Regions from separate parts of the Homo sapiens genome. Here region 2 is linked to region 1. Evidence: fine-mapped expression QTL. A gene starts in region 1. The other region holds a variant in brackets. All regions are shown on one strand. Distances are from middle to middle. Region 1 holds the start of ARLN (allregulin). Region 2 has its middle 19 kb from the start of LINC01061.

The links. PIP is the estimated chance that this variant, and not a neighbour inherited with it, causes the effect.
Region 2: its variant is the best candidate, but not a certain one, in a credible set for the expression of ARLN in rectum (CEDAR, PIP 0.61).

Annotation. Positions count from the first base shown.
Region 1 is chr4:119,298,561-119,302,560 of GRCh38, forward strand. It overlaps ARLN (allregulin), which reads right to left and starts at 2,085. Exons shown (of 2, transcript NM_001001701.4): 1 at 1,776-2,085; 2 at 1-219. The coding sequence starts at 1,975. The coding sequence ends at 219. RefSeq lists enhancers at 1,679-1,728, 1,829-2,058.
Region 2 is chr4:119,427,263-119,431,786 of GRCh38, forward strand. No RefSeq gene overlaps it. Among named protein-coding and RNA genes, the nearest start is that of LINC01061, 19 kb to the left of the region's middle. The variant T/C (reference allele first, on the strand shown) is at 2,080.

The sequences.
Region 1 (4,000 bases):
AAGGGTTTAATTTTAAGAACTTAGCTAGGAATGGGTGAAATCCTACCCAATTAATAGAGTTCTGCAAATTAGTAACAAAGTGTAAAATGAAAGGAAGGGTCCCTTGGAGATGTGAAATTCTTCTATTGAGAGTCCTGTCTTCTTTATTCAAGAAGTTTGTAGCCATTTTCAGAATTCACTCAAGAACCAACTTCTTAATTTAGATATCAGCGAACAAGTCTGTAAAAAGCAAGTATTTGTCAGCAATATGTGCTTTATCTTCCCAGTTTTTAACACTTTATGCCTATTTACATATTGATAAAAAGAAAAGCCTAGAACATTTCTTGTAAGGCCTCTATTTTCTATCCAGAGCTGAAAGTTCAGGTCATAAAAACACACACACACACAAAACCCACTGTATTTGAGATTATCAGTCTCTACCAAAACAGGGAGGGAGAGTAAAACTCTCCCTTTACAAATGGCTTGACAGAGAATTTTATAGAAATCCCTATCCCTTTTGCCATCCTCCCATTAATCCCTCTCGCTCCCCTGCCACCCCTTTTTTTGAGACAGGGTTTGCTTTGTCTCCCAGACTGGAGTATAGTGGCACGTTCACAGCTCACTGAAGCCTCGACCTCCCCAGCTCAAGCAATCCTCCTATTTCAGCTTCCCAAGTAGCTGGGACTACAGGCGTGAGCCACTGTGCCTGGCCCTCTCTGTCTTCTCTAACTTACTACACCATCCAAGAAATGAGACAGTGAGGCTTAAGACACCCAAATCTTGGTGAAAATATAGGATGGGGGTTGGGGGTGTAGAAGAAGTGACTGCCTATCAAGAAGTGAGAATTTCAGAAGTAACTCATAGGCATGGTGACTAAGGAGTTAACAGTGAGTGAACAATCAACTCCAAAGTCCAGGAGAGCTGTCTAGATGGGCTACACTGCTCTTCTCCCATAGGAGCCCTGTTTCATCTCACTGCTTCTCCTTAGCTTGTCTCTTAACACCATCTCCATTTGGTGTCTGCTTCCTCCTGCCCTATTCTCTTAAGTTCCCTTCCTTTACCCTCTGCCAGAATTGTCTTTTCAGAGCGAGTGGCGATGAAAATGGAGAGCATGGGTTTTACAAGTAAACTCTACAGAATTTTGTAACTTGGTGTTTTAGGATATGTGGATGTGTGTAAGAAAAGGGCAAAGTGTCTCAGGTTTCTGGGAGGTAACGGTGGATAAAGTTGGCGTTTACTGAAATGGTAACGCTGCAAGGCAAGTAAATTTGGGTAAGAAGCTGTTAAGAGTTCAGTTTTGGACATGTTTAGTTTGAGACAGCTGCGTGGTCTGCTCATGGTTAAACAGCTGTATAGTAAAAATAGCTTTCGTTGAGCACTTACTACTGCCAGGCAACATGCAAATCACTACGATCTCAATCTTCACTACACCCCTATGACCTGGGTTACTAATGGTCCCAAATGGCAGATGAAAAAATAAAGCTCCAAAAGGCGAAATAACTTCTCCGGTCGCTTCATGGTGCTGCAGGAACTCAAGCCTAGCTGGTTTCATTCCAAATCATGAGAAAATATGACGCCAAGTTTTCTCCACACTTCTTTGGAGACTCCCACGGACGTGCTAAAGAAGGACATTTTACTCCTAGTCCTTCTCCCCCACCCACCCGACTGCGCCACTCACCAGCTGTGTGATCTTGGACATATATAAACTCTCTGGAATTCAGTCCCCTCCCCGCCCAAAAGCGAGCAAATGATCTCTAAGCTCCTTACCACCCCAATTTTGCATTCGAGATACTCACCATGGCAAAAAATACACAAAGAGAAACACCACCACATCGAAAAGGATGAAAAGCCAGAGGTCCAACCAGTAGGAGTGTTTGGGAAGCCCATTTGCCCCAGACTGAGGCCTCACATCGAAGTTCTGCCTCCCTCCCTCGCTAAAGCCTCGCCGCTCCCGGAGACCATCTCGACCATCAACACCCGGTGCGTCCACCTCCATCTCGCTCCTGCAGCTTCGTAACAACCCTAGAAACCGAAAATGCTTAAGTTCCCGGACTTTGGTGTTCGCCGCACCGGAAACTGAGCGGAGTCCGGCCGCCTGCGCAGTGCGCCGCGCCCCGGGTTCCGGAATGCACTCTGAACCTACTCTTCCCAGCGCGCAGGCGCCTGGCTCGGCTTTCCGCTGCCTCCGTGACCGCTGGCATGAAGCGCGGCCTCCGCCTTGACACTAAGTCAATGGGCCCGCCTACTTCTGCCTCGCGGCGTCCCAGGCAGATAGCTGGTTATTCAGGTTTCGTTGGAAGAAATACGTTCTCGTCCCCCTGAAAGGCCCAGTCCAGTCAGGTGATGGACTCCTCCCTGAAACTGCACGAGGTCACCTCTCCTATCCCCGTATTCCGTTTGGATCCTTATGCCAACGTGTTAGGAAGGCCCCCTCTGGTGGGTTTTGTACTGTCTCTAGCATTTGACACTTAATATTTAAACACCACCAATGAGGTGGACGTCCTACTCACGGGACTGAGTTTCCAAACGGGCCAGAGAGCAGCACGTGAGCATTTTGCAGGTACTTCAAGGGAGTGGGTTTAAGAATAACCTGGCCGCGCCCCCCTGTAATCCCAGCACTTTGAGAGGCCGAGGCGGGCGGATCACCTGAGGTAAGGAGTTCGAGACCAGCCTGGCCAACATGCTGAAATCCCGTCTCTACTAAAAAAAAAAAAAAAAAAAAAAAAATCCAAAAATTAGCCGGGCGTGGTGGCAGGCGCCTGTAATCCCAGTTACTCGGGAGGCTGAGGCAGGAGAATCGCTTGAACCCGGGAGGCGGAGGTTGCAGTGAGCTGAGATCGTGCCACTATTGCACTCCAGCCTGGGCAACAGAGCGAGACTCCATCTGGGGGGAAATGGGGGTGGGAAGAATAACCCAAAGGTTATTTGACTTTGAGTGTGAGCCTCAGCAAGAACAGAATGCTAGCAGGAAGAAAATGACCTATACTGCCTGGATTTTACCTCGTGGGTCCAATTTCAAATATTCTCTTTCTTGTCACATTATGATTCCTGAATTGTTCAGAAAATAACGGGCACCCAGACATATAAGTGGTTCTCTTGGTGCATAGTAAATGGAGATAAGACTGTAGTTGTGTTTTTACAAAGTCATTAAATCGTCGTAAAACCTCTTTGAAGGGGCAGTACTCCATCTTATAGAATTAGGAAATGAGACACAAAAGGAGTGAATTGTCTAAGGTTACTAAAAAAATTATAAAGCCTAAAATTAACTCCAAATCCAGCACTCTTAAAGCTGTTCCATAGCTTCCTAACCTTGCTCCAATTTGCCTCCAAATCAATTGCCAGGTTTTAGAGACAAAGATAGTATACGACCTTTCAAGAAAAATGCTTTGTAGATTCTGGGATGAGAGGGCCATTACCTGAGAATTAATTAGATTGTGTGCTGTAATACAGATTGTCTGATGGTAGTAGACAAAAAGACCCTGGGCTTAAGTGGCATTGAATCTTTACAAAAATTAGGAAAGGCAAATAAACAATTGCCTCTACCAGAGATGGAAGCATTCTTCTCGCTGACAAGGTAGGATCAATTACTCCTAGTTATTGAAGTAGGATTGATAAAAAATTATTGAGATTATTAGTGTTGAAGAAGCATGACATAAACTGAACAGGTCTTGAAATGGTTTTAAACTTGTCTTTGGCCCAGAGTCACATGCTCATCATGAGGGGATGTTGACAGTATGATCTGTTCTAGAGTCAGGAACGTCTGCCAGACTTGGAAGAGCAACTAGTGCAAATAAGGAGGGGTTATTTAAACTAAATTCAGTTGAAAGATTCTATTTCCGACTTTACCCTTGTAAAAGTCCCACTGATTGTTGATTATTCCACATTACAGAAATGAGTTTAGAGTGTGTTATGGCTGATTTTGAACTACTGGCCTCAAGTGATCCTTCTGCCTCGACTTCCCAAAGTACTGGGATTACAGGCATGAGCCACCTTGCTCAGTTGGCATTTGCCATTATCAAAG
Region 2 (4,524 bases), 130 kb after region 1:
CCCTCAGCACCTTGGCCAGCTCCATCACCTGCTTCAAACTTTTGCTCAATATTCACTTACGAGGCCAACCCTGACCACTCTACTTAACACTGCCCTCTGTCCCCATTCCCACCATGCTCATTTCTTTCTTTTTGAAACAAGGTCTTGCTTTATTGCCCAGGCTGGAGTACACTGGTGCAATCACAGCTCACAGCAACTTCAACCTCCCAGGCTTAAACAATCCTCCCGCCTCAGCCACCCTAGGAACTGAGACTACAGCTGCATGCCACAACACATGGTTTTTTTTTTTTTTTTTTTTTTGAGACGGAGTCTCGGTCACCCAGGCTGAAGTGTAAGGGTGCGATCTTGGCTCACTGCAATGTCTGCCTTTTGGGTTCAAGTGATTCTCTGCCTCCCGAGTAGCTGGGATTACAGGCACCCACCACCACACCTGGCTAATGTTTGTATTTTTAGTAGAGATGGGGTTTCACCATCTTGGCTAGGCTGGTCTTGAACTTCTGACCTCGTGATCCACCCTCCTCGGCCTCCCAAAGTGCTGGGATTACAGGCGTGAGCCACTGCGTCTGGCCTTTTAAAAAATTTTTTTTTAGACATGAGGTCTTATGTTGCCCAGGCTGGTCTTAAGCTCCTGGGCTTAAGCGATCCTCCCACCTCAGCCTCCTAAAGTTCTGGGATTACAGGCGTGAGCAACTGTAACATGAGGTCCCAGCTTCATGTTCATTTTTTGTTGTTGCTACAACAAAGTACCCTACATTTAGTGGCATCAAACACCACAAATCTACCATCTTACAGTTCTGGGGGCCAGAAGCCCAACTAGGTCTATTAAGGCTAAAGTCAAGGTGTCAGAGGGGCTGCATTCCTTCTGGGGGAGGCTCTAGACAGAATGTGCTCCTTTGCCTTTCCCAGCTTCTAGAAGCCACCCCCATTCCTTGACTTACCTCGTGACTCCATATTCAAGGCCAGAAGTGCAGCATCTTCAAATCTCCCTCTCTGACCTCTTCTTCCATTACCACATCACTTTCTCTAATTCTGACTCTCCTACCTCCTTCTCTTATAAAGATCCTTGTGATTGGTGGGTATGAGGGCTCCCATCTGTAATCCCAACAAGTTGGGAGGCCAAAGAGGAAGGATTGCTTGAGGCCAAGAGTTAGAGATCAGCCTGGGGAAAATAGGAAGACCCTGCCTTTACAAAATTAAAATTAAAATCAGCTGGACATGGTGATGCACGCCTGTAGTTCCAGCTACTGGAGAGGCTAAGGTGGGAGGATTGCTTTAGCCTAGGAGGTCAAGGCTGCAGTGAGCTATGATCACATCACTGCACTCCAGCCTCAGTGGCAGAGTGAGACTCTGTCTCCAATATAAGAAAAGAAATATACATTTGGTCTCTGCCCCTGGTTCCTGGCATAGAGCTTCCAAAGCTCTTATAAAGCCCTTCGTGACAGAGGTAATAGGAGCATTTTCTGTTTTGATATTTAGTCTTAGTCCCAGGTTCCTGACACAAGGGCCTCTAAGGTCTTTCAGATCTGCAGCATGGTAAGAATGCATGTGGGATGCTGTTGAGCTAACAGGGTGGCTGCAAGCTCCTAGACTGCTTCAGGAGGAGGGCTAGCTGCCAGAGAAAGCAACCACATTTTTTTTTTAAACGGAGTTTGGCTCTTGTAGCCCAGGCTGGAGTGCAATGGCACAATCTCAGCTCACTACAACCTCCACCTCCCGGGTTCAAGCAATTCTCCTGCCTTGGCCTCCCGAGTAGCTGGAATTATAGGGATGTCTCACAACGCCTAACTAATTGTTGTTATTTTTAGTAGAAACAGGGTTTCACCATGTTGGTCAGGCTGGTCTCAAACTCCTGACCTCAAGTGGTCCATGTGCCTCAGCCTTCCAAACTGCTAGGATTACAGGAGTGAGCCACCGCACCTGGCCCCAACCACATTTTTTGAGGCTTGGAACTTTCAGCCTCACCTGCTGAACTCCAGGAGGCAAAAGGAACTGGAGATTGACTTAACTACCAATGGCCAATGATTTTATCAATCATGCCTCCATAAAAACCCAAACAGCAGGGTTTGGAGAGCTTCTGTG[T/C]TGCTAAACACAAGGAGGTCCTGGGAGGGTAGTGTGCCCAACAGAGGGCATGGAAGCTCTGTGCCCCTCCCCACTTACCTTGTCCTGTGCATCTCTTTCATTGGCTGTTCCTGAGATGGAGCCATTACACTGAGCCAGTAACAGAAAATAAGGTGGCCAGATGCGCTGGCTCATGCCCGTAATCCCAGCACTTTGGGAGGCAGAGGTGGGCGGAATCACTTGAGCCTAGGAATTTGAGACCAGCCTGGGCAACATAAGAGGACCCCGTCTATACAAAAAATAAAAGAAATTAGCCAAATGTGGTGGTGGGAACCCTGTAATTCCAGCTACTTGAGAGGCTGCAGCAGGAGAATCACTTGAGCCCTGGAGGTTGAGGCTTCAATGAGCAATGATTGCACCACTGCACACCAGCCTGGACAACAGAGCGAGGCCCTGTCTCTTAAAAAGGAAAGAAAAAAACCTGTTTTTCTAAGTTCTGTGAGTTGTTCTAGTAAATAATTAAACTCAAGAAGAGGGTCATGGGAAACCCTGATTTCTAACTGGTTGGTCAAAATACAGGTGACAACCTAGGACTTGCAACTGGCATCTGAAGTGAGAGTGGTCTTGTGGGACTGAGCCCCTAACCTGTGGGTTCTGCGCTAACTCTAGGTAGTGTCAGAATGGAATTGTGGGATACGCGGTTGGTATCCAGAGAGTTGGAGAACTGGTGTAGAAACTCTGCACACACATTTGGTCAGAAGTCTGTGAGTAGAGAGAAACGTGTTGCGGGAAGTCAGGGACCCCAAACGGAAGGACCAGCTGAAGCCACGGCAGAAGAACATAAATTGTGAAGATTTCATGGACATTTATTAGTTCCCCAAATTAATACTTCTATAATTTCTTGGGCCTATCTTTACTGCAATCTCTGAACATAAATTGTGAAGATTTCATGGACACTTATCACTTCCCTAATCAATACCCTTGTGATTTCCTATGCCTGTCTTTACTTTAATCTCTTAATCCGGTCATCTTCGTAAGCTGAGGATGAATGTCCCTGCAGGACCCTGTGATAATTGCGTTAACTGCACAAGTTGTTTAAACAGTATGAAACCTGGGCACCTTGAAAAAAAAAACAGGATAACAGCAATTTCAGGGAACAAGGGAGATAACCTTAAACTCTGGCTGCCTGTGGGCCGGGTGGAACAGAGCCATATTTCTCTTCTTTCAAAAGCAAATAGGAGAAATATTGCTGAATTCTTTTTCTCAGCAAAGAACATCCCTGAGAAAGAGAATGCATCCCTAAGGGGAGGCCTCTGAAATGGCCGCTTTGGGGACGGCTGTCTTTTACAGTCGTTGATAAGGGATGAAATAAGCCCTGGGCTCGCGTGGCGCTCCCAGGCTTATCAGGACAAGGAAATTCCCGCCTAATAAATTTTGGTCAGATGGGTTGTCTGCTCTCAAACCCTTTCTCCTGATAAGATGTTATCAATGACAATGCGTGCCCGAAACTTCATTAGCAATTTTAATTTCGCCCCGGTCCTGTGGTCCTGTGATCTTGCCCTGCCTCCATTTGCCTTGTGATATTTTATTACCTTGTGAAGCATGTGATCTCTGTGACCCACACCCTATTCGTACACTCCCTCCCCTTTTGAAAATCACTAATAAAAACTTGTTGGTTTTGCAGCTTGCGGGGCATCACGGAACCTGCCGACATGTGATGTCTCCCCTGGACACCCAGCTTTAAAATTTCTCTCTTTTGTACTCTTTTCCTTTATTTCTCAGACCGGCCAACACTCAGGGAAAACAGAAAAGAACCTACATGAAATATCGGGGTGAATTTCCCCCGATATCACACGGGCTCTTCTCTCACCTGTCTACCTGCTTAACTGCATAGGAGAGGCAATGCATGGTGCTCATGAACAAGGCAAGCATTGAAGTCAGACCAGACTAACATTTGACTCAGTCTTAATATTCAGGTGAGCTTGGGCAAATCGCTCATTAACCCCAAGTCTTCATCATTTTGTGCATATAATGGGGATAACTGTGGCACCCACCTGTTTTTGTGAGAATCAATGAAATATTATGCTTGATGTTATTGTGATCATGATACTATCTGACAAGGGCAGTGATGCATGATAACATCAAAAAATTAGAAACTGTAATGAGGTCTCTTGGGCAAAATTCCATACAAGCAAATTACTGTCTCTACAAAGCATTTCTGCCACACTTAATTCACCATTCCCTGAACAAAATGTGCCATCTTCATTGTTCAGGTCTGTATAGTGCTGGTTTCCCTGCCTGGGCAGCTCACTCCATCCCATCCCAGCCCAATCCCCATCCCTCCACCTCCCCCTTCCCTCCCCACTCTCATACAACTCTTCCTTATCTTACAGGACTTGGCTTCAATGTCACCTTAACTGGAAGCTTCTCTCCCTCTCCAGAAGAGCTTCCCATTGCACTTGATGC